7 linked regions of the Homo sapiens genome follow. The protein of the gene in region 7 purifies or fractionates together with the protein of the main gene of each other region. This does not show direct contact. Each region holds a gene or a part of one and is shown on either strand. Other genes may lie near its edges. The genes, in order: SPTAN1, EIF3L, EIF3B, NUP210, FLNB, NUP88 and SLFN11.

Evidence for each region.
Region 1: the proteins of SLFN11 (region 7) and SPTAN1 purify together in Homo sapiens (affinity purification with mass spectrometry, with the first as the bait; one study listed by BioGRID). This does not show direct contact.
Region 2: the proteins of SLFN11 (region 7) and EIF3L purify together in Homo sapiens (affinity purification with western blotting, with the first as the bait; one study listed by BioGRID). This does not show direct contact.
Region 3: the proteins of SLFN11 (region 7) and EIF3B purify together in Homo sapiens (affinity purification with western blotting; 2 studies listed by BioGRID, with this or other methods). This does not show direct contact.
Region 4: the proteins of SLFN11 (region 7) and NUP210 purify together in Homo sapiens (affinity purification with mass spectrometry, with the first as the bait; one study listed by BioGRID). This does not show direct contact.
Region 5: the proteins of SLFN11 (region 7) and FLNB purify together in Homo sapiens (affinity purification with mass spectrometry, with the first as the bait; one study listed by BioGRID). This does not show direct contact.
Region 6: the proteins of SLFN11 (region 7) and NUP88 purify together in Homo sapiens (affinity purification with mass spectrometry, with the first as the bait; one study listed by BioGRID). This does not show direct contact.

The regions. Positions count from the first base shown.
Region 1 is NC_000009.12:128,625,587-128,629,086, forward strand, and holds part of SPTAN1 (spectrin alpha chain, non-erythrocytic 1), read left to right. Parts: intron 1-182; coding exon 183-392; intron 393-804; coding exon 805-1,101; intron 1,102-1,417; coding exon of another isoform or gene 1,418-1,504; intron 1,505-1,799; coding exon 1,800-1,912; intron 1,913-2,338; coding exon 2,339-2,356; intron 2,357-3,500. UniProt on the Homo sapiens protein: Fodrin, which seems to be involved in secretion, interacts with calmodulin in a calcium-dependent manner and is thus candidate for the calcium-dependent movement of the cytoskeleton at the membrane.
Region 2 is NC_000022.11:37,852,419-37,855,918, forward strand, and holds part of EIF3L (eukaryotic translation initiation factor 3 subunit L), read left to right. Parts: intron 1-3,146; coding exon 3,147-3,226; intron 3,227-3,500. UniProt on the Homo sapiens protein: Component of the eukaryotic translation initiation factor 3 (eIF-3) complex, which is required for several steps in the initiation of protein synthesis.
Region 3 is NC_000007.14:2,371,827-2,375,326, reverse strand, and holds part of EIF3B (eukaryotic translation initiation factor 3 subunit B), read right to left. Parts: coding exon 3,478-3,500; intron 2,655-3,477; coding exon 2,532-2,654; intron 800-2,531; coding exon 721-799; intron 1-720.
Region 4 is NC_000003.12:13,410,323-13,413,822, forward strand, and holds part of NUP210 (nuclear pore membrane glycoprotein 210 precursor), read right to left. Parts: intron 1-3,500. UniProt on the Homo sapiens protein: Nucleoporin essential for nuclear pore assembly and fusion, nuclear pore spacing, as well as structural integrity.
Region 5 is NC_000003.12:58,144,422-58,147,921, forward strand, and holds part of FLNB (filamin-B), read left to right. Parts: intron 1-1,499; coding exon 1,500-1,628; intron 1,629-2,398; coding exon 2,399-2,572; intron 2,573-3,500. UniProt on the Homo sapiens protein: Connects cell membrane constituents to the actin cytoskeleton. May promote orthogonal branching of actin filaments and links actin filaments to membrane glycoproteins. Anchors various transmembrane proteins to the actin cytoskeleton.
Region 6 is NC_000017.11:5,388,663-5,392,162, reverse strand, and holds part of NUP88 (nuclear pore complex protein Nup88), read left to right. Parts: intron 1-500; coding exon 501-602; intron 603-3,202; coding exon 3,203-3,361; intron 3,362-3,500. UniProt on the Homo sapiens protein: Component of nuclear pore complex.
Region 7 is NC_000017.11:35,367,122-35,370,621, reverse strand, and holds part of SLFN11 (schlafen family member 11), read left to right. Parts: intron 1-2,921; 5' UTR 2,922-3,019; exon of another isoform or gene 3,020-3,081; intron 3,082-3,500. UniProt on the Homo sapiens protein: Inhibitor of DNA replication that promotes cell death in response to DNA damage. Acts as a guardian of the genome by killing cells with defective replication.

The sequences.
Region 1 (3,500 bases), on a different chromosome or scaffold from region 7:
CGCAGTGATCTGCGGTCTGAAGGAGAGCAGGAAAGGGGGCATGTGTGACTGAGTCTCAGCAGTGTCCAGGTGGACAGTTTGGCTTGGGCATCTGGGGGACATGCTGGTGCCATCTGAGCCTAGGAAGAGCAAGTTCCAGTCCTGTGGAGTCACCACAAATTGGCTTGTCACTCCTTGTTCAGGAAACTTTTGACGCTGGGCTGCAGGCCTTCCAGCAGGAAGGCATTGCCAACATCACTGCCCTCAAAGATCAGCTTCTCGCCGCCAAACACGTTCAGTCCAAGGCCATCGAGGCCCGGCACGCCTCCCTCATGAAGAGGTGGAGCCAGCTTCTGGCCAACTCAGCCGCCCGCAAGAAGAAGCTTCTGGAGGCTCAGAGTCACTTCCGCAAGGTGAGGATGGGGCCACGTGAAGCTTAGCTGGCCCACAGCTCAAGGAAGGACGCCCACCTTCTGTCTGCCCAGCTCTGCCACTCCCCCTTGAGGAAGCTGTGAGCTCAGTGCAGAGCTTTCAAACATGGGTGTGGCTGGCATCAATTAAAACCAGGGCAAATGAGAGGGCCCTGTGAGATCGCCATTCAGAAGCACGCAGGACAGACTAGAGACAAGGGCAAAGGGTAGGAAGGGGAAAAAAGGCTGGTGAAGACTTGAAGGGGGAGCAGGAGACAGGAGCAGAGGGGAGCTAAGCTCCCAGCAGGCTGTGTGCGCCTCTGATTCCCAGGAACCACCCCGCACCCCACCTCCTGCACTGCGTCGGCACGTCCAGCCCTGGCGACTCCGCCAACTCAGTCTCTTCTGCTTCCAGGTGGAGGACCTCTTCCTGACCTTCGCCAAAAAGGCTTCTGCCTTCAACAGCTGGTTTGAAAATGCAGAGGAGGACTTAACAGACCCCGTGCGCTGCAACTCCTTGGAAGAAATCAAAGCTTTGCGCGAGGCCCACGACGCCTTCCGCTCCTCCCTCAGCTCTGCCCAGGCTGACTTCAACCAGCTGGCCGAGCTGGACCGCCAGATCAAGAGCTTCCGCGTAGCCTCCAACCCCTACACCTGGTTTACCATGGAGGCCCTGGAGGAGACCTGGAGGAACCTACAGAAAATCATCAAGGTACACCTCCCGCTGCCCTCAGGAGCTGCTCGGCCTCCCAGAGCCCTCTCTGGGCCCTGCTCAGAGCCCACACTTAACTGAGTCACGACAAGACGAGCAGGATGGAGGAGCATGGTTTCATCAGAAGTTTCATTTCTTTTTGTGTTCTTGAGGCAGGGTCTCTGTCACCCAGGCTTCAGTGCAGTGGTGCTACCATGGCTCCCTGTAGCCTCAACCTCCCAGGCTCAGGTGATCCTCTTGCCTGAGCCTCTTGAATAACTGGGACTACAAGCACGTGCCACCACGCCTGGCTAATTATTTTAATTTTTGTAGACAGGGTGTTGCTATGTTGCCCAGGCTGGTCTTCAACTCCTGGCCTCAAGCAGTCCTCCTGCCCAGGCCTCCCAAAGTGCTGGGATTACAGGTGTGAGCCACTGTACCCAGCCAGAAGTTTCCATTTCTGACAGTCCAGCAACTCCCTGCTTGACTGACCAGTCGCTTCCCTCCAGGTCCGCCTCTTCCTTGAAGCCCCTGGGGGGTGGGAACAGAGAAAGAACTACCAAGTGCTCTGAGCCGGCCTCATGTCTCCCAGCCTCCTCCTCTCATCTTTGGGGAGGTTCCTTGTGGGGAGGCCACCACCACCCTGAGCCCATCTGTGAAGGAGGGGCTGGTGTCACTGCCACAGCAGCGCACAGCATCTGCCCCCCTTTGGCCCTCAGGAGAGGGAGCTGGAGCTGCAGAAGGAACAGCGGCGGCAGGAGGAGAACGACAAGCTGCGCCAGGAGTTTGCCCAGCACGCCAACGCCTTCCACCAGTGGATCCAAGAGACCAGGTGCCAGCCCGCTGGGGCCGGGGAGCAGCAGCATGTCCCTGCTGTACTTAAGCCCTGGGGAGCTTCCAGCCCCAAGGAGGTGGTGGTGCTTTGTGTAAAACCAGAGGCAGCCTGGGAATAAAGCTGGGCTGGCAACGCCTGGTCGGGCTCTGGAGCCGGGAGTGGGGGCATAGGTGGAGCAGCCTCTCAGTGCTGCATGTCCCAGACATCAAGTTGTTAGAGATCCCGGATTGAGTGGGACCATGCAGGGCGCGTGGTCAGCCCCAGCCATGACTTGGTGACAGACGATGCAGGGTCTGTGCGTTGGGTACTGATGTTCTTGCTTTTGTTTTCCTTTCTTTCTTGTGTCTTCTCTCTGTCCCCCCGATTGCTGCTGTTGTCCGGACACCACCTTGTCTCCCGGCTGCTTGGATCTGCTCTCCACAGGACATACCTCCTCGATGGGTTAATATTGTTTTCTTCCTTCTCTGGGCTTGTCATGTGGGGGTCTCGTGCGCTTGCCCCTCGTGGCCTGGCTTGTGGAGGATCCCGGGATGGGCCTTCCTGCCCAGGGCGGGCTGCACTTCCCCTCCCACCCTTCTCGTCACCTGATGAGGAGTGTGTGCCTTGCCCCATAGCCCATGGTCCCTGGTCCCCGATAGAGCCTTCAAGCCAGGGGGAGCCGTCCTTGCCTCACTGGGCGATTCCAAGGGCTCACTTTGGGTAGGGAAGGTGATGAAGCACGAAGGCCAGAGCTGGAGTCCAGAGGCCCTAAGAACCCCCGTGCCTGTCCAGCCACCGGGCTCTGTTGGGCTCTCACCTCTGCTTCCCCAGCGAGTCCAACAGTGGTCAGTGGGCATGAAGCAGATGGCAGTGCTGGGGGCTCAGGCAGGGTACAGTAAGTCCACAGCTGAGAAGGGCTGGGCACTGACACCCCCTAAGTAGCTGAGGCTGCCACTTTACTTTCCTGGGGTCAGGGAGGGTAACAAGACTGTCCGCCCTAATAGAAGGCAAAAATGCACCCGTTATGTGATAGACAGGACGTGGGAGGAGCCCCAGGGAGGAGCAGGGCTGGGCTGTCCCGCCCAGTCCCGGCAGGGACTTCTCTGCTTGGCCTGGGGCCTCTGCCTGGCCGGGTCACCTTTGTAATCTGCCAAGCCTGCTGTGAAAGCCAGGGCTGCTGGGACTGGAGTGGCTTGGCCTGCACTCCTGAGGCTCTGCACCCAGGCACATCAAGCCTGTATAGGCGGCCAGGGGAGAAATAGACCCATCCAGCCGGGCCACACATTCTGATGGCAGAGCAGCTGGGGACGTAGGGATCGCAGTTTCCGGCCTGTGCCCGTAGGACACCCTGGCCACCTGACTCCCCTCCCTGCCCCATGCCTGTGTCTGCTGGTCTTGCTCTTGTCTCCGTGAGGTGCCACGCTCCCCTCACCTTATGGCTCCTCCCAAGCCCTGCCCATCTTGCCCATTCCTAGTGTGAGCTGCCTGGGGTGAACCACTGGGCCTGCTGCCTCCAGGTACCCGCCGGGCACCAGGTTGCCCTTGCCTGCGCCCTGCCAGCTTGGGCTTTGTGTGTGTCTGTTGCAGTGTGCTCTTGCCTCCCCTC
Region 2 (3,500 bases), on a different chromosome or scaffold from region 7:
TCAGAGCAAGCTGAACTCCGCAGGTTTTGAGGGGCTGCCGTTGTGTAATGAGCGTTAGAGATAAGATAGGTCAGTCAAAGCTGGGATAGTCAGGAGTGACTTCACCAAGGAAATAGAATTTAAGCAAGTCAGAAGGATGAGGGAGAGAAAACAAATAGCCAAAGGCCTATTGATCAATGAATAGGATCTCTGACATGTGTTTTCTTTTTTTGTTGTTTTGAAAGAGCTGATTGTAGTTGAAAAGCAGAGGAAACCTCAGACATTGCATGGTTTTAGGCCTCACCCCTGCCACTCTCGTGAGCCTAAGTTCTACTTGGTGTGGACTCCAAGGTCCTTCCCGCCCCTGCAAGCCACCCATTAGGTTGAGCTGAGAGATCAGCCAATGGGAACAGAGTCACTTATGACCAAGAAGAATTGATCTGGGGGTTAGTTAGTGAGGAGAGAGAAAGGGAGAAAACCTTGTTCGGAGGTTGAACACCTCCAGCCGAAGAAGGTGCAGCATCGAGGTCTTTCACCACTAGCAAATGGATCCAAGTCATGCGGCACCAAAAGAGGTTAGCAGCTGAAGGGTGTTGAAGTGACACAACACCAAAACATGCTACCAATGATGAATCCGTATCTGTACAGGTCTCCAGCAGCCTCAGTTCTTGCCTCCTCAAAAGAAAGAATTCGACTGAGGGGTAAAATGCTACCGATGATGAGTCCGTATCTGTACAGGTCTACAGCAGCCTCAGTTCTTGCCTCCTCACAAGAAAGAATTACACTGAGGGCTAAAATGCTACTGATGATGAGTCTGTATCTGTACGGGTCGACAGCATCCTCAGTTCTTGACTCCTAACAAGAAAGAATTCGACTGAGGGGCACAAGGCAGAAGAAGAGAGGGAGGCAAGTTTGAGAGCAGGAGTGAAAGTTTATTAAAAAGCTTTAGAACAGGAATGAAAGAAAGGAAAGGACAGTTGGAAGAGGGCCAGGTGGGTGACCTGAAAGGCAAGTGTGCTGAACTGTGTTTTCTTTATTCCCCGGGTCTTTTCTGATTAGAAGTATATAAATCAGCGCCTACAAAAATTAGCTGGGGCATGGTGGCAGCATGCCTATAGTCCCAGCTAGTTGGGAGGCTGAGGTGGGAGGATCACTTGAGCCTGGGAGGTTGAGGCTGCAGTGAGCTGCACAATGGAGCGAGACCCTCTCTCAAAATTAAAAAATGGACCTGATGTTCAATAGAAATGTAGCTAGACATTAATTTTAATTTTTCAGCCAAGCGAAGTGGAGATTTATTTAAAATATTATTTCTATATGTAATCAGTATTTAAAAATTAAGGGGATATTTGCCCTTTTTTTTCTTTATACTTAAAGTTTCCTAAATCCAGTGTGTATCAGAAATACTTGCTTTGTGTTTAGATTTTATAGAGTTTATGACTGGAAAAGTAATTCAAATTTGAAATTTGAATCTTCAAATAGTAGAGTAATTCCAAATAGACCTAAAAGTTTTCCAATACTGAGTTAAGTGTTGGTTTTTAAACTTAAATGGCAACTAACTGAAATTTAAAATTTAACTCTTTGCTTATATAGTAGCCACATGTAGCTAGTGGCTATTGCATTGGGCAGTGCCCGCAGATACAGATGACAGTTGAAGCCAAGCATCTTGTAAGTCTTTCTCTAGGAGAATGTGAGAAGAAATGCTGGTGCCTTAAGAAGTATGTTTCTTTAGGGATGGGTGGGCAGGCAAAGAAAGGATCTAGTAAAGGAGGCAGAAAGAAAAGTGAAAAGTAGATAGTAAATTGGCAAAGAAATGTCACAGGAACCAAAAAGTCTGCAGAAGAAACTGAGGAAGAGAGTATCACCAAATGTTTTAGTGAGGTCCAGATGAGAAAAAAAGCCAGTTGAATTTGGTAACTTGGAGGGCCTTGATAACCTTAGCAAGGTCAATGTCAGTAGAGTGATGGAAGCAACAGCCAGAGAGCAGTGGGGTGAGAAAGGGGAATTGGTAAGTATCGGGGACATAAAGGGTCACTGAGTGGCTTTGTGTTTTGTTTCTGTGTTTTTTCTGTTTTTGTTTTTTGTTTTTTGAGACAGGATTTCGCTCTTGTTGCCCAGGCTAGAGTGCAATGGCGCAATCTCAGCTCATCGCAACCTCCGCCTCCTGGCTCCAAGCGATTCTCCTGCCTCAGCTTCCCAAGTAGTTGGGATTATAGGTGTGCACCACCATGCCTGGCTAATTTTGTATTTTTAGTGGAGACGGGGTTTCACCGTGTTGGTCAGGCTGGTCTGGAACTCCTAACCTCAAGTGATCCACCCGCCTCAGCCTCCCAAAGTGTTGAGATTACGGGTGTGAGCCAGCGCGCCTGGCCTGTTTCAGTGTTTCTTTTCTGTTCTGTTTCTGTGTTTCTCCCCAACCCCCATCCCGTAGAGACAGGGCCTTCCTATATTGTCCAGGCTTGTCTTGAATTCCTGGGTTCAAGCGATACCCCTATCTTGTCCTCCCAAAGTGTTGAGATTACAGGCGTGAGCCATCATGCCTGGCCTGTTCAGTGTTTTTTAGGGGAACTTGAGCATGTTTATATGTTGGACTAAAAGAGCCAGAGAAGCAGGAGGGGTGGGGCTTGAGGAGATTGGAGGAAAGTATTAATAGCTGCTGAGGGCATCAGGAGAAGAAAATTAAACAACCTGTTGCAGGTTTGTCAAGTAGCAGTGTTTGGATTGGATAGGCAGCAGTGTTTAAATTGGATGCTGTAGGTCTGTTGTGGCCTTGGACTGCAGCAGACTGATTTGCTTCTGTGTTTAGAGACGTTTGGATGTGCTCCAGGAGATGGAAACGCTGTGTTAAAGAATGGTGGCCAAAAAAGTAGTTCTTATAGCAGAAAACAGCAAGCAGTTAAATATGGCTATAGTTAATGATACAGAGGCAGGAGATTATCCTGAAAAGCTTGATGGGTCCCTAACTGATACAAAAACAATATTTTCTTGTGTTGAGAAAGATTGAAGTGTGGAGTTGGGTTGAGGACAGTTGTGGGCTTGAAGGGCTTTGGCCTCAGCTCTGTTTATTTGACATCTTCCCCTTTCTAAGCCTGGGTCCTCATCTGTAAAATGTTAGGATTGGCATTCTCCAGTCCTTTTGGAATTTTAGAGATTTTTTTCTTGATTTTTAGCTGGACCAAGCTGACTGAAAGATTCTTCAAGAATACACCTTGGCCCGAGGCTGAAGCCATTGCTCCACAGGTTGGCAATGGTAGGTGTGAGCTCTTTATATCTTGTGCACTGAGTGGAATCCAGTGGCTGAGTCATTAGACAGGAAGCTCAAGAGGGTCTGTGTCTGTTTTGCTCACCATTTTGTTTCCTTGGTGCTTGGTATGTAGTAGGTCCTTGGCAAAATAACTTGTCGAAGGCTGGATGATTTAAGAGAGGACAGAGATCTCTCATATATGGTGAAATTTAGATCTTTGTACTGACTTGTTTCTATTTCCTTCTATAATTTGGGGGTCATTACAGTCACTCTGGAATAA
Region 3 (3,500 bases), on a different chromosome or scaffold from region 7:
TGAGAGGTGCTGCGGCATGGGGTCCCCAGGGAGCCAGCCTCGGCGTTAACATGGAAACAAGCACAGCAACAGCCTCTGGTGGCCGCTGTGAGACTTACCAAATCACAGATGCAGAGTGTGCAGTGAGTATTACATATGACTGCCATCATATTATTTTTACTGGAAATGTTATCTGAGGCTAAGTAAGCCTCCAAAAATACAGTAGCAAGTGTGGACAATGAAGCAAGGGAGAGCAGCAACAAAAGGGTATTCTTTTAACTCAGAGCAGAAAGCTGGAAGCTTCTCCATGATTTCGACACACTGCTGGAACACAGCTGAGACCGACACCGTGACACCAACCACAAAGGTAAGGCAGCCTCACAGCTGTGTAACGAATACCCTTCCCACTAGAAGACAAGGGACTGACCCCCGGGGGGAGGTTACTGGATGGCTGGAAGGCACTTGTTTAACCACAGAGAACCACAACCCGCAGACAGGTCTGCCTGGTCACTTCACGAAAGCATCTGGGAGCGCTTATTTCACTCTGTGCGGGCTTGGCCTGAGTCCTGGAGTACCGTGGGTCTGCAGAGGTTCAATGAAGTCCTATCCACTGACACTGGGGCAACCCTTTCAGCGCACAATACTCTCTCTACCAAGAAGCCGGGTGCAGGCGCCTGAGGGGTCTCTGCCACAGCAGAGCGCTACTCACAGGGCGGACAGGCTCAGAGCGCAGACACCTACCTCCTCAGGCCCGCCAACACCACGAACTGTCCTTGGGGGCTCCAGAAGATGGTGTTCGCCTGCTGCTTGTCGAACATCTCTGAAAGGAAAGAGCGCGCCTGTCACGAGCTGCGAGGGCTTCCACAGTGCCGGGGCAGCCAAGGCTGGAGGACTTGGCCGTGCTCATGCTGCCCATGAGGGCAGAGCTGGTAATGCTGGACCACCTCGGAAAACAATTTTACAAAGTCCATCGCCAAGTACCCCCTAAGTCATGATCCATACTTTAAATGGGAAAAAAAAGAAGATGCGACAGGGGTATTTCAAAACAATACTATCTTATTTCCTGAGGTAACTGGACAAAGAATTCCCTTTACAGCAAATGTTCACTGCTGCAGGGACCCCAACAGAGAGATGTCAGAGACGTGTGACCCCAAAAGACCAAAGCCACTCTCCTAGCGACAAGGCGTCTTTGGATAAGCTGTATGCTTGTTGAAACTGACTACAGTCATCATCTTTGCAGGTACTAACTCTTACTTCCGGAATGGATCTCGGGCAGAGCCGCTGGAACAGTGAGAAGTGAAGGCCAGCTGGGGCTGGCTCAAGTCCCCCTCAGAGCATATGCTCCCTGCATCTCAAACAGAGCTGACAACCTGTGGCCTCTCTCCCCTCAGCCTGTGGTACATCCAAAAAAGAGGCATGGGGCAGGCTGACGTGGGGAGGAGGGGAGGAGATGTGGGAGGGCAGTGCACCCTGGCAGGGGCAGGGGTCTCAGACTTGCACAAGCGAAAACCCCAACAGCCACGGGCATGGGATGGAGCCCATGCGGTGGCCCCAGCGTCCATGCCAAACCTCAGGAGAGGCGTGTCACGCAGCATGTTTGGAAGGTACAAGGTGCCTCTGCTTGCCTATGTTTTATGACCTAGAAGACTTACACAAGTCTCTGGACAGTCTGCAATTGCCCATATGTTTCTATCAACCAGAATTAATGAAACAGCCAATCTTGTAATCCACTGCCAACTGAGGGCACCACGCACCCTGCCAAGCTCTAGCAAAGTGAAAACTAAACTCCTCACAGAATCATGCTGCGAAAGGTGCGGCCAGGAGATTCCAACCCCTTCCTGGTACAGAGCCAAACCCATGGCTCTGCAGGAGGGCAGCTGGCAGCCAGAGTCCTGTGTGAGGAACACAGCCCATCGCCACCTCCTGGCTACCACACACACACACCCCACGCCTATGAAGCAACAAGCAATGGCTCATTCAATCCCCGCGGGCACCGGGCTCTGTGCTGAGCAGAGACCCCAGGATGAAGTGAGGAGCTGAGGGCACAGGCAGCAGGTGCCGTGAGACAGGCGAGGGCCCACGCACCACTGTGAGGAGCGAGCCCCAGGTGGGTGCAGTGTGGCACCCCTGGAACCGGGTGCACGGGGGCAGAGTACAGCTGTGTGCAACAGCTCTGCGCACCCTGGTCAAAGGCACCTGACCCAGACTGGGGACTGGCAGGAGTATGTCCACAGGAAGTGACCCCAAGCCCAGGGACAGCAGCTACAGCCAGAAGAGAAAAAGCTTCACTTGAGATGATGGCAGAGAATGGAAGCCTTGGAAATACTCGCTTAAACGTGAGGGCTCAACGGGGCTCAGAGAGACACCCTGCAAGGAGGCGGCACCTCCAGGCCATCGCTCACTTCCATCAGCCGAGGCCACACCCCATTCATAGGCGAGTCCCGGCCTGCCCAGCAGTGGTCCTAGGCCAGTCAAATGCTCACTGTTGGGCAGCGACTGGGTCATCATCTGTGCTGACCTACTCAGAAGAGGAAAGGGACCAGGTTACTTACTGATGAGTTCAATCTTCCCGTTGTTTTTGACGTGGTAGAAAGACACAGATATCCGCGGAGCCTCTCCGTGCAGCACAGCAAACTTACTTCCATTTGGTTCCCAGGCAAAGGCTATGATGGTTTCTAAAATGCACAAAACAGACCCCTCCCTTTTTGGTCAATTCAGAACATAGTGCTCTTGATCAGTTAAAATGTTCACTATTCAACCACAGAGAAATATCCCCCGACGTGTAAAAGTTCATTAAAAGGACGGGAGAGCAAGCAACAGCAGGAAAGGTGCACATTCCTGGAGTTTCAGAGACAGCTGCTTCCACTTGTGTGGAGTGACCTACGTGAAACTGCTCCCTTCCTGAGAGCAGGACACCCACAGCAGGACCGCAGGAGCCCGACATTGTCAGCAGCTGTGGATGCCGCTTCCCTCGCACCCAGTGTGCACCTACAGTGGGATCCTGACCTCCGGTCTCCCTGCCTGGAAGGGCGGCCATGTTTCCCATTTTCTCACCTATTTTTAACCCTTCCTTCCTCCTTTTCTCCATGGCAAAACAAAAAGCCAAACAAGAACACAGGCTCAATCTCTTTTCTCTTTTTTTTAGACAGGGTCTTGCTCCGTCACCCAGGCTGGAGTGCAGGGGCGCAATCTCAGTTCACTGCAACCTCTGCTCCTGGGCTCAAGTGATCCTCCCGCTTCAGCGTCTCAAACAGCTGGGACTATCGGTGCGCACCACCACACCTGGCTAATTTTTTTTATTTGTTTTTTGTACAGAGAGGGTCTCACTATGTTGCCCAGGCTCTAAACACGTTCTGTGACCTGGAGATGACTATTCATGGTGAGGGCTCACAGTCCTGACTCAGCTGCTCAGACAACCCCTCGCATGGAAGTGTTAAAGCCAAGAGTAAAACAGCACGTAGGCCCCATTCGCCTCAAAGTGACTAAAATACAACTTGCCTTTCATCTCGACCACATCCACA
Region 4 (3,500 bases), on a different chromosome or scaffold from region 7:
CATGTAGCACCATACCCAGCTAATTTTGTATTTTTAGCAGAAATGAGGTTTCTCCATATTGGTCAGGCTGGTCTCAAACTCCTGACCTCAGGTGATCCGCCCACCTTGGCCTCCCAAAGTGCTGGGATTACAGGCGTGAGCCACTGTGCCTGGCCAATACTGATTTTTAAAAGCACCACTGGGCCAGGCATGGTGGCTTATGCCTGTAACCCTAACACTTTGGGAGGCCAAGGTAGGAGGATCACTTGAGACCAGGAGTTTGAGACCAGACTAAGCAACAGTGAGACCCCATTTCTAAAAAAAAAAACAAAAAGGCCGGGCACGGTGGCTCACACCTGTAATCCCAGCACTTTGGGAGGCCGAGGCGGGTGGATCACGAGGTCAGGAGATCGAGACCATCCCGGCTAACATGGTGAAACCCCGTCTCCATTAAAAAATACAAAAAATTAGCCGGGCGTGGTGGCAGACGCCTGTAGTCCCAGCTACTTGGGAGGCTGAGGCAGGAGAATGGTGTGAACCCAGGAGGCGGAGCTGGCAGTGAGCTGAAATGGCACCACTGCACTCCAGCCTGGGTGACAGAGCAAGACTCTGTCTCAAAAAAAAAAAAAAAAAAAATTAGCCAGGTGTGGTGGCATGCACCTTTAGTCCCAGCACTTTGGGAGGCCAAGGTAGGAGGATTGCTTGAGGCCAGTAGTTTGAAACTAACCTGTGCAATAGTGAGTCTCTAAAAAATAATAATAATAAATAAAAATTTTAAAAATTAGCTGGGCGTGGTGGCTCACATCTATAGTCCCAACTACTCTAAAGGCTGAGGAGGGAGGATCACTTGAGCCCAGGAGTTTGAGGTTATAGTGAGCTATAATTGTGCCACTGCACTGCAGCCTGGGTGATAGAGCAAGAATCTGTCTCAGAAAAATAAAAGTACTACTGAAGTTTTAAAATCCAGCTGAAGGAAACTGGGTAAACCAACAATCATCTGAGAAGGGTGGCGCATTTCCCCAGGCATCTGAGAGTGAGTGTGGTTCTGGATCTGAGGCTGGTTTTGGACACAGCTCTGCCACTAACCAGCTGTGAGGCTCTTGGACCCAGGCTCCTCATTTGTACAGTGCAGTCATTCTTACCAAAGGAGTTTTGTTTATTGTTCATTTTTAGGATTAAGTGGGGGCATAGTATGCAAAGGGATTAACAGAAAAATTGGTTCTTTCATTTTGGCTCCCTCTGTCCATCCCCCCTGTCACCACCCCCACATCTCCTCTGCAACACTGGAAGCCCCTGCCTCTGGACCTGCAGGCTGTGGCCAGGAAGGGCAGTTGCCTAGACACCTGCACCTGCCGACGGCCCCTCCCCACCATCAGGCTCCTCTTGGTTGGACACCTGCCCTAGCCCAGTCACATACAGGTATGACTTGTATTCGTTTATTTACTTATTTATTTATTTGAGACAGTTTCACTCTTATCACCCAGGCTGGAGTGCAGTGATGCAATCTCAGCTCACTGCCACCTCCGCCTCCCGGGTTCAAGCAATTCTCCTGCCTCAGCCTCCCAGGTAGCTGGCATTATAAGCGCCCAGCACCACGCCCAGCTATTTTTTTTGTATTTTTAGTAGAGATGGGGTTTCACCATATTGGCCAGGCTGGGCTCGAACTCCTGACCTCAGGTGATCCGCCCTCCTCGGCCTCCCAAAGTGCTGGGATTACAGGCATGAGCCACTGCATCTGGCCAGCCACTGCACCCGGCCTAGTTTTTTTAATAGACAGGCTCTCACTCTGTTGCCCAGGCTGGAGTAGAGTGGTACAATCATGGATCACTGCAGCCTTGACCTTCTGGGTTTAAGCAATCCTCCTGCCTCAGCCTCAGGAGTAGCTGGGACCACAGGTGCCTGTGCCACACCCAGCTTTATTTTCCTTTTCTTTTTTTTTTTTTTTTAGTAGAGACAGGGTTTCGCTATGTTGCCCAGGCTGGTCTTAAACTCCTGAGCTTAAGCGATCCTCCTGCCTCAACCTCCCAAAGTGCTGGGATTATAGGCATGAGCCACCATGCTCGGCCCTTTTCTTATTATTGTATTAAATGGATTCTTCTTTACTAAAAAATTACTTTAAAAGGAAACCTTGGCCAGGTGTGGTGGCTCACACCTGTAATCCCAGCACTTTGGGAGGCAGAGGAGGGCTGATCACCTGAGGTCGGGAGTTCGAGACCAGCCTGGCCAACATGGCGAAATCCCGTTTCTACTAAAAACACAAAAATTAGCCGGGCATGGTGGTGGATGCCTGTAATCTCAGCTACTCAGGAGGCTGAGGCAGGAGAATCGCTTGAACCTGGGCAGCAGAGGTTGCTGTGAGCCAAGATCTTGCCACTGTACTCCAGCCCAGGCAATACAGCAAGACTCCATCTCAATTAAAAAAAAAAAAGGGAGGCTGAGGCAGGTGGATCATGAGGTCAGGAGAGCAAGACCATCCTGGCTAACATGGTGAAACCCCGTCTCTACTAAAAATACAAAAAATTAGCTGGGCATGGTGGCGGGCACCTGTAGTCCCAGCTACTTAGGAGGCTGAGGCAGGAGAATGGCGTGAACCCAGGAGGCGGAGCTTGCAGTGAGCCGAGATCAGGCCACTGCACTCCAACCTGATCAACAGAGCAAGACTCTGTCTCAAAAAAAGAAAAAAAGCCAGGCACAGTAGCTCACGCCTGTAATCCCAGCACTTTGGGAGGCCGAGGCAGGCAGATCACGAGGTCAGGAGTTCGAGACTAGCCTGGCCAATATGGTGAAACCCCGTCTCTACTAAAAATACTAAAATTAGCCAGGCGTGTTGGCACATGCCGGTAGCCCCAGCTACTCAGGAGGATGAGGCAGAAGAATTGCTTGAGGCCGGGCGCGGTGGCTCACACCTGTAATCCCAGCACTTTGGGAGGCCGAGACGGGCGGATCACGAGGTCAGGAGATCGAGACCATCCTGGCTAACATGGTGAAACCCCATCTCTACTAAAAATACAAAAAAAAGTTAGCCGGGCGTGGTGGCAGGCGCCTGTAGTCCCAGGTACATGGGAGGCTGAGGCAGGAGAATGGCATGAACCCGGGAGGCGGAGCTTGCAGTGAGCCAAGATCGCACCACTGCACTCCAGCCTGGGCGACAGAGCAAGACTCTGTCTCAAAAAAAAAAACAAACAAACAAAAAAGGAAACCTTACACACTAGTGTAAATAAGAATATCACAGCATTTGTCATCCATCCAGATGACTCAAAGCAGTGTCAGTAAGTCCTGGGGGGAAGCTGCTACCTGCAAAGACTCTAGGCGTCTGCCTGTTCTCTTGGGAGACAGGCAAACATCAAAGAGTACAATGAAAAGATGGTGTTGGCCAAGGCCCGAGCAGGAGAAAATAGGGAGTTGCTATTTAATGGGTACAGAGTGTCCATTTGGGAAGATGAAAGAGTTCTGAAGGTGGATGGTGGAGGTGGCTGCACAACAATTGTGAACGTACTTCATGCCACAGAACTCTACACCTA
Region 5 (3,500 bases), on a different chromosome or scaffold from region 7:
CAAACGGAAATACAGATATATAAGAGAGTGTCTTCCCAGCCTTCCCTCATGTGGACGAACCATTACATATTTGACCATTTCCCTATTGGAGGGCATTTTGGTTCTTCCTGCCCTCGCTGTCCCCAGTGTTGCTGCGCAAATCGACTTTTCCCCTAGTCACCTCACACTCACAAAGATGTATCTGTGAGATTTAGTTACCAGAGGAGGCAATGCTAGGGCCCCAGTGCAGGCATCTATGATTTTGACAGATCTTGCCAAATTGCCCTTCAGAGGGGCTGTTGCAGTTCACACGCCCTCTGGCCATGGAGAAGAGCACCTTCTTTTCCACAAAATTTGCCAGTAGAATATGGTATCAAATTTTTGGAGCTTTGCCAGTCTGATGGTTGGAAAGAAACAGAATCTCAGCGTTGCTTTATTTGTATTTCTCTTGTGAATGAGACCACACAACTTTCCCTATGTCTATTTGTATTTCTTTTTCTGTGAACTGAACATTTGGATCCACGGCCTGTTTTTCTATTTGGTTATTGGCCTTTGTCATATAGTTTCTAAGAGCAATGTAAACATTGGAGAGATTAGCCCTTTGTGGTAGGAGTTGCAAATGTTTCTCTGAGATTGGCATTTACTTTAGTTGTCTGTATGTAATATTGGTTTAAAGCAAAAATGTATTATCTGCTTCTATTTAAATATTCTAAAGCGGCAGATGGAGAGAGAGGAAAAAATGTCTTTCTCACATCTGCCATCCACTTCCACTGCTGGTGTGAGTTGTGTATCTTTTCAGATGTTTCTCTCTGTATCTACAAACATACATATAATTTTATTCTATTTTGTTTTTAAAGGAATAGCATAATGGTATTCATAGTTTATAGCAACTTGCTTTTTTTCTTTTTAATGCATCATATTATGGATAATTTCTCAAGTCAGTAAACATGGGTCTTCCTCACTCTTTTTAATGGCCCATGAGTAGATCAGCATTTATTTAACCGGTCCCCTGTTGTGAACACTTAGGTCTTTTCCTGATGTGCACCCGAACACTGCAGAAATGAAAGTGCTTACATAGGGCTAGGAGTCGGGGTGGGCAGAGAAGACCACTGTGGGGTTGATTCCTTACAGGTTGAATGGCATGGGCAAATGGCCTTCCAAAAGCCCTTTCCACTTACCTTCCCTCTGGCCATGGGTCCTTTCACCACCCAGTGCAAAAGTTTCTTCCTTATTTGTCAGGTTGGGCTGGTACCTTACCTTAGCCCCCTTCCTCATCTGGAGCAGCTTCCAGGATTGTTTTTCTTATGTTGTGATTGAAGGAATAATACTGCGTAGACCCTCTCTGATGTCCTAGGATGGCGGGGGATGGGAGGTGCATGTGCATCTCCTTCTGTCTCTTCATGCCTCTGCTTAGGAGGCGCCAGACCTGTAGAGAGGTGGACGTCAAGATGCCAGTTGTCCAGGGTCTTCGTTCACCCCTTAATGAGCACCAATTTTGTTTGTGTCCTTCGTAAACCCAGAGAGCCCACTCCAGTTCTACGTGAACTACCCCAACAGTGGAAGTGTTTCTGCATACGGTCCAGGCCTCGTGTATGGAGTGGCCAACAAAACTGCCACCTTCACCATCGTCACAGAGGATGCAGGAGAAGGTACTGTGTGGTTTACGTGTTTATACGCCTCCAGCTGTCCATTTGGAGGGTGAAGTGGACACGGTTCCAGGGTGGCTTTTAAAAGTGAGACAATCGAATGGTAGTATTTGTCTTGTCTTTTCTCTCGTGTAAATCTGTTTCTTCTTTAGAGCCGCTTCGTCTTCTACCCAGACAGACATTTTTGAAGTCCTTTGTGTTCTAACTGAAATCAGATTCATGCTATGAAATACTTTATGTGACTTGTCTGGAATTTAAGTGTGTTTTGGTTGGTGATGTTTTTGTTCTTGTTGCACATGTATCCACAAGACCACATGACTTACTGAGTGGCTCTTTTTGATAAAGCTGTGTGCCCATTCCCGTGGTATTCATGGATAATCCCAAATCTGTGGTTCTAATGGGATTTCCGTGATGGCAGCCAGTGCCTGATGGGCAGGGACAATCCACCTCTGCCCTCCACCACCCACCGTCTCCTATGTGTAATTGATGTACACGGCTCCTTCCTTTTCTCATCCCATGCATCCTGAGAGTAGAGAGAGCTCCAGGGTTACTTGCAGTGAAGAACTCAGATGTTTGGGGTTTCTTCTCAGTGGGTGTTTTTACTGCGTGGACTGCTTCATTCTGACAGATGTCCCTTTGCCCACAGCTCACGTGGAGTGCGTCAATCCATTGTCCCCAGCATCAGGGCTGCCCTGGATGAGTTGTTAAAAGGAAACTCTTAAAACAAGGCAACTCTCTCCCTAACACCCCTGCATCCCTGTTCCCACTTGTAGGTGGTCTGGACTTGGCTATTGAGGGCCCCTCAAAAGCAGAAATCAGCTGCATTGACAATAAAGATGGGACATGCACAGTGACCTACCTGCCGACTCTGCCAGGCGACTACAGCATTCTGGTCAAGTACAATGACAAGCACATCCCTGGCAGCCCCTTCACAGCCAAGATCACAGGTAGGGTTGTCTGGCTTCTGGGGTCTTCCTCGTGGGAAGTATGGCTGCCTCTGACTGCCACCCTCCTTATCAGACCCCTGGCAGCAGGCTAGACGTCTCTTTGAGTTTAGGTTTCACAGAGACTTGTTGAGGAGGAGCAGGGGATGGAATGCAATTTTGGATTAGCTAAATCCTTCTCTTGCTGATAATCCAGGAAAATGCGAGAGCTAGTATTTGGAGCACACTTTTATTGTGCCAGTGTGACTCTAGGGTGCAAAGAGAAAGCTCTCAGATGGAGTGTTCGAATCATACTTACTGCAATAGTGCATGAAGTGCATGAGCTTAGACATGCCCTTCAGCGTCACTACTAGGTAAATTTTCTGCTATCCCTTTTACAGATGGGAAAACTGAGGCTTGGCAAGGTAGTGGTGTAGCCAAGTTCACATATAGGTAAACAGATCCAGGTTATCAAATTCCAAAGCCCATGCTCCTCACCTTGCTGTGTTCAGGTTATGCTTTCAGTGGGTTATAAGGAAGATGCACAAGGCAGATCCTGTTTCCCCACCGTATTTAGACCTGTCTGTGAAGCAGCCAGTAGTACTGTGTGGAATGTGGTCATTGTTTACCTAGAAATGCCCACAGCCATGCCAGGCAGGTATGAGGTGCCTTCAACTAACAAAAATTCCTATATTTTATTTTATTTTTGAGACAGAGTCTCACTCTATCACCCAGGCTGGAGTTTTAGTGGCATGATCTCGGCTCACTGTGACCTCTACCTCCTGGGTTCAAGCGATTCTCCTGCCTCAGCCTCCTGAATAGCTGGGATTACAGCACCCACCACCACACCCAGCTTATTTTTGTATTTTTAATAGAGATGAAGTTTCACCATGTTGGACAGGCTGGTCTTGAACTCCTGACCTCAAGTGATTCGTCTGCCTCAGCCTCTCAA
Region 6 (3,500 bases), about 30 Mb from region 7:
GAATGACAGTTCCCATCTGAGGTCTCAGTTTCCAGTGTCTTCACTGAAGTGGGAAGGAAGACTGAGAGAGATACACGCTGTGCGTGCCAAGTGATTTCCTGTGACATTGACATTGGGCCTCATTGAGAGAGACTCGGTAGTTCTGTTCATTCAACAGTTTCTAAGCACTTAATTTGTTAGCACTGGGCTAGGCAAACAAAGATAGCTGGGGCTTATGTGCAAGTTGGAGAGATCTTCAGTGTAACGTGTAACTTTTGAGATTACAGTCAGCAGCACGCTACAGTTAGGGATTCCTGAGTGACTTAGTCACATGGGCTCTAGACTTTAGTGTGGAGCTGCATTAAAGGTTTCCAAGCCACCACTTTTGAGGTTATGGTACTGATAGGATGTCCCAAGCAACTTCAGCCCAGGCCTGAGAAGGCCGCGGACCTGTCATGTCTTTGCTCTTGGTTCCATTGCATTTGCTGCTTTGTAATTTAACTATGACTGTGTTTTTCCAGGCAGCCAGCTCCAATTCGAGGATTTTGGATTGTACCTGACATTCTGGGACCCACGATGATCTGCATCACCAGTACCTATGAATGCCTCATATGGCCGTTATTGTACGTCCCATTTTATATTCTCCACACAGCTCTTGTTAATTCTGCAATATCTAAGTTGGGAAAATGCACTCAGTAACCAACTTGAAGCTATACATGTGTGGTTTATACTTTGGCTTCTGACTTGAGGGTTGGAAGGATGGATATTTCTGTTCCTGCCATCATCTCTATAAGGTTTCATTGTAGGTATAGTTTCTGGCATCCCCTGCACCTAGCTGAGAGTCAGGAGCTTTTCTTCAGAGTGTGGAGAAAAAATACTAAAATTGAATACCAAATTCCATTATCGATATGAGTAATAATTATCAAGCTGTGACCATACGCCAAGCTCAGAAGTAAGCCACGTACCCGCACTGCCTCCTGGAATCATCAGGGCAGCCCTGTAAGGAAGGCACTGTCATTTCCATTTTATAAAAGTGGAAACGGGGATCGAGAGGTTAGTAAATGCTGAAGTCACAGGTAACAAATAGAGCTGGGATACAGATGCAGGTCTCATTGACTCAGAAGTCCATACTCATACTCTTTAATTTCTCCATCTCTGCCAGCCTGAGGGACACTGTAGACTATGTAAACTGGAATAAAGCTGAACTCAGGCTGGGTGCAGTGGTGGTTCATGCCTGTAATCCCAATGCTTTGGGAGGCCCAGAGTTCGAGATCAGCCTGGGCAAAACAGTGAGACCCCCATCTCTACAAAAAACAAAAAAATTAGCCAGGCATGGTGGTACACATCTGTAGTCCTAGCTGCTCAGGTGAGAGGATTGCTTAAGCCCAGGAGTTTTAGGCTGCAGTGAACCATGATCATGCCACTGCACTACAGCCTGGGTAACAGAGCAAGACCCTGTGTCTTTTAAAAAAAAAAACAAAAAAGCTGAACTCTTAGTCTTTGCTCCTTTAAGGAACTCAGATAATTAAGCTGTAATCACTATGTTCCTTTTCCAACAGCCCTGGAAGATCATTCTGAGTTACATAAATGTAGGAATATGAGTACCAAAAACAAAAGTCACTGGAGCTTCAAACACTAGACAACACCCCCACCCCTTGTCCGTTCAAAGCTTGCACCTCTGGATGCTGACATAAATTCCTAATACTGGCAGTAGTTTACTGTCCTTAGAGGATCTTCCATAGTCTTTGAAGCTTGATTAAGTTGTACTATCTGGATGTAAAAATAAATATAAATTTTGTGTTATTTACACTGAAGGCACTAAAAGCTAGCAAGACCAAACAAAAATAATAAAATCACTGGAGAAAAAATTACCTGTAAGTTACCTCAGCATACTTTTTAAACACCCACAGTACATTTAGTAAAATAAAACCTAGTCACACTAGCTTACTTCAGAATAAATATGAATCCCAAAGGGGAAAAATAAACATTAATTGTCTGGATATTTTTTTTTTTTTTTTTTGAGACGGAGTTTGCTGTGTTGCCCAAGCTGGAGGGCAGTGGCACGATCTCAGCTCACTGCAACCTCTGCCTCCCGGGTTCAAGTGATTCTCCTGCCTCAGCCTCCCTAGTAGCTGGGATTACAGGCGCACACCACATGCCCAGCTAATTTTTATATTTTTAGTAGAGATGAGGTTTTGCCATGTTGGCCAGGCTGGTCCTGAACTCCTGACCTCAGGTGATCCACCCACCTCGGCCTCCCAAAGTGCTGGGATTACAGGCATGAGCCACCGTGCCAGGCCAATTATCTGGATACTTTCAGATCATATTTCTGCCAACTCCCTGAAATACAAGTTGTCTATAAAGTTATGCTATTTCATGAACTTTCACTTTTTTTTTTTTTTTTTTTTGAGACAGAGTCTTGCTCTGTCACCCAGGCTGGAGTGCAGTGGTGTGATCTCAGCTCACTGCAACCTCCGCCTCCTGGGTTCAGGCGATTCTCATGCCTCAGCCACCCAAGTAGCTGGGATTACAGATGTGTGCCACCACACCCAGCTGATTTTTATATTTTTAGTAGAGACAGTTTTACCACGTTGGCCAGGCTTGTCTTGAACGCCTGACCTCAAGTGATCCACCTGCCTCGGCCTCCCAAAGTGCTGGGATTACAGGCGTGAGCCACCACGCCCAACCAAACATTCACGTTAGAATTGTTGCCTTCAGAGTAAGTCACTTGCCATGCTGCCGAAGTCTGTGAGATCTTTTAAGCTCTTTTTGAAGTTTGAGTATTTGCACTTGACTGAATAGTTTTTAGAAATGAAATTATATAGAACCAATATGGTATATACAGCAGTTTCTTGGCTTAATATTGGTTTTGATCAACTCTAAACCTAACAAATAAGTAATTTATGTTTGTGGCTCCGGCTTATAAACTGGCTTTCAAGTCCTTTGCCAAGAATCCATGCTAGGTGTTTGTGCTGCCTTGATCTTTTAGAAAAGAACTGGAAATGGCAGTCAGAAATGCTTTCACAAATCAGGGGCATTGGAATAATAAGGGTGTAGCTTCCCAAAGTGACCTTTTCAAGGTGGAAAACATGCATTCTTGCACTTTTACAAAAGTTACACTTTATTTTATATTCTGAAAGTTCTGGATTAATGTGGTTTCTGCTTTCCTGTAATACAGTAAATCACTCCATGGTAGAATTCAATTTACTTACTTATTTTGCAGAAGTACAGTCCATCCAGCGTCTCCTCCCCTGCTTTGTACTCGAGAAGATGTTGAAGTGGCAGAGTCTCCCCTCCGTGTTCTGGCTGAAACCCCAGATTCCTTTGAAAAGCATATTAGAAGCATTTTGCAACGTAGTGTTGCCAATCCAGCATTTTTGAAGTATGCAACCTTGGGCATAGCGGTTTTATGAATGGGTTCTCTTCTGTCTTCAGAATTACTGTGCATCCTTTCTGTCCTCATCTGTTTCATATACTTTTTACTGTGATAAATTTGGAAGAAACTGGATATATTTGATCAG
Region 7 (3,500 bases):
TGAATTTGTTTATCAGTTCTAATAGTTATCTGGTATAGTCTTTAGGTTTTTTTCAAATGTAAGATCATATCACCTGCAAACAAGGACAATTTGACTTCTTCCTTTCCAATTTAGATGCCCTTTATTTCTTTCTCTTGTCTAATTGCTCTAGCTAGGATTTCTATGTTGAATAACAATGGTGAAAGTGAGGATCCTTATAGTGTTCCAGATCTTAGAGGAAAGGCTTTCAGTGTTTCCCTACTCAGTATGCTACTAGCTGTAGGTCTGTCATACATGGATTTTATTATGTTGTGGTATGTTCCTTCTATACCCAGTTTTTTGAGGAGTTTTCCATGAAGGGATAATGAGTTTTATTAAGTGCTTTCTCAGCATCAGTTGAAATGATCATATGGCATTTGTCCTTCATTCTGTTGATATGATGTATCACATTGACTGATTTGCATACGTTGAACCATCCTTGCATCCCTGAAATAAATAGCACTTAGTCATGATAAATGATCTTTTTAATGTATTGTTGAATTAAGTTTGCTAGTATTTTGCTGAGATACTGGTCCATAATTTTTTTTCTTTGATGTGTCTTTGGTTTTGGTATCAGTAATACTGGCCTTATAGAATGAGTTTGTAAGTATTCCCTCCTTCTCTAATTTTTGAATAGTTTGGGTAAGATTGATATTAGTTCTTCTTTAACTGTTTGGTAGAATTCAGTGGTGAAGCCATCGGGTCCCAGACTTTTCTTTGCTGGAGACTTTTTATTATGGCTTTGTTCTCATTACTTCTTATTGGTTTGTGCGGGTTTTGGGTTTCTTCATGGTTCAATCTTGGTAGGTTGTATGTGTCTAAGAATTTATTTCCTCTAGATTTTCCAATTTATTGGCATACAGTTGCTCATAGTAGCCACTAATGATCCTTTGAATTTCTGCAGTATCAGTTGTATTGTCTCCTTTTTCATCTCTGATTTCATTTATTTGGGTATTCTCCTTTTTTTCTCAGGTAGCCTGGTAAAGGTTTGTCAATTTTGTTTATCTTTTCAAACAATCAACAGGTGGTGAAGCCAGCCAAGCTGTGTTCTTTTCTTCAGAGTGGCAAGTTCCCCCAGGCCCTAGGTGGGTTCACAGATGCTATCCAGGAGCCAGGGACTGGAGTAAGAAAACCTTAGAAGTCTACCTGGTGTTCCATTCTACTGGGACTGAGCTGGCCCTCAAATCATGAGACACAGTCCTTCCCATTCTTCCCTCCTTTTTCCACAGGCAGAGGAGATGACCCTGTGGCCAACACAACCACGGGTTCACAGGGAGTACTGTTAGCTATTGCTGATATTCACTTAAAGCCCAAGGGCTCTTTAGTCAACTGGTGGTGAATGCTACCAGGTCTGGGACTCACTCTTCAGGACAGTGGACTCCCCTCTGGCCCAGGTTGGGTCCAGAAATGCTGTCCAAGGGCCTACTTGTTGCTCTACCCCTGTGGCTAAGCTGGTACCTACGGTGCAAGACAAAGTCCCCTTTACTTTTCCCTCTGCTTTTCTCAAGCAGAAAGAGTCTCTGCCTGTATGCACCACAGCTGGGGTTGTGCTGAGTCTCACCTGAAGCCAGCAGAGTCTCACCCAAGACCCACGGCATATTACCTGGGTATCGTTGCTGATTATTCAGGGACCAAGGGCTCTTTAGTCAGCAGGTGATAGATCCTGCCAGGACTGGGTCTTTCCCTTTAAGGCAGCAGTTTCTCTTCTGGCCCAGAGTGTGTCTAGAAATGTTGTCCAGGAGATAGGGTCTGGAATGGGTGTCTCATGACCCTGACCAATGTGCTATCCTACTGTGTCTGAGCTGACATCCAAGATGCAAGACAGAAGTCCTCTTTAGTCTTCTCTCTTCTCTCCTCAAATGGAAGGAAGGGATCTTTTTGGAGCTGAGAGTCACACTGTCTGGGGTTGGGGGAGGGGTGGTGCAAGCACTCTCTTAGTCGCCCCAGCTGGTATCTCAGTAGGTCGTGTGCCCTCCAAGCCTACTGGCTCTGATCTCAGCTCAGGGCTAGGACTTGCCTAGGAGTTTCAGTCCTTGTGGCCTAGAATGCCTTTCAAGTTTATTTAGAACCCCCTAGCACTTCAGCTACAGTGGCGAGGCTTGCTGAAACTCAGGTTTCAACTGCTGGGATGGACAATTTCCATCTCACTAGGGCTGGTCCAAATTCTGCCTCCATGGGCAGGTATATGCTGGATTCAGCATGGTTTTGCTTTTCACTGTAACAGGGCAGTACTGAGTTCAATGCAAAGTCTCACAATTGCTGTGCCCTCCCTTCCCCAAGCACACAGATTTCTCTGCACCACATGGTCACTGCTGGAGAAGGGGGATGGTAGGTGGAGCCTTCTATTACACCGTCTTGTTCTGCCCTCCCATTTCCCTTTCTGTTCAGTTTCTATCTGAGGCTAGCCAATCCCCTGTGATCTAGGGGAGATGGGTGGGAGGATGGAAGGAAAGGGGAAGTAAAACAAAAAAATAAGAACCACCCAGAAGCATACAGAAAATTGGGCACTACTTGACAATTTGACATTGCAAAGTTTTCCCAGGCTAATTCCTCACCTTTTAGGGAGTTTGCTGAGCAAACTAGGTAAGCCTTCTTGGCAGGGGAGAAATGCACAGATGCTACCCACTGAGCCCCTCGCTTGGGGGTGGTTGTCCCTGCATGTCCACATCAGAGTCACTGCTCCATCAGGGGTCCTGCAGGACTAGATCCTGGGGCATGGGGAGAAATGGGGACAGCTAATAAATGGAAACCGTACAGCTAATAAATGGAAACCATACAGCTAATAAATGGAAACCATACAGCTAATAAATGGAAACCGTACAGCTAATAAATGGCAGAGCTGAGATTTGAACCTAGGAAAACTGAGTCTTAATCCTTGAACTCTGTTACCTCTGTCTACATAGGTTTCTGTATACATAGCCTTCAGGACTGCTTTTGGTGGAAAGAGATAGCAGGTGGTGCTAATTCACTGTGTTGGTGGGAACTCTGGCTACACTGAAAGGTTTGAAAAAGTTATCCTGTAAACTGACTAGAATCAGGTGCTTTTGTTTCTGAAGTGCTTTTGTAAGTGTACTGAGTTTCTTTTCTGAATTCTTAATTTCTTATTGACTTAGTTTAATTTTATTTAGGATTTCAAATTTATATGGGACAATATCTCTACCTTACAAAAAATGTGCAAGTGATGCTGATTATAATTCCTTTAATCCTAAGGAAAGAGCTTGAGATAGAGCTCCCTAAGCCTTTTTTGCCTGCAAAAGAATCTAAGCAGATGGTGGGGTTGCTGTTTAAATACAATTGCCAACCAAAAACTATAATCTATTGGCTTTGACAATAAAGTTTATGGGGCAGAGAAAATATTTAACTTTGAAATCCCTGTACATCGAAAGGAATATTTTACAAATAACTTGACAAAGATGTTTCAATGGTCTTGGAATGCAGAATGGAATTTTGAGAAATAGAAATTTGTAGGCAAGGGTCTAAAC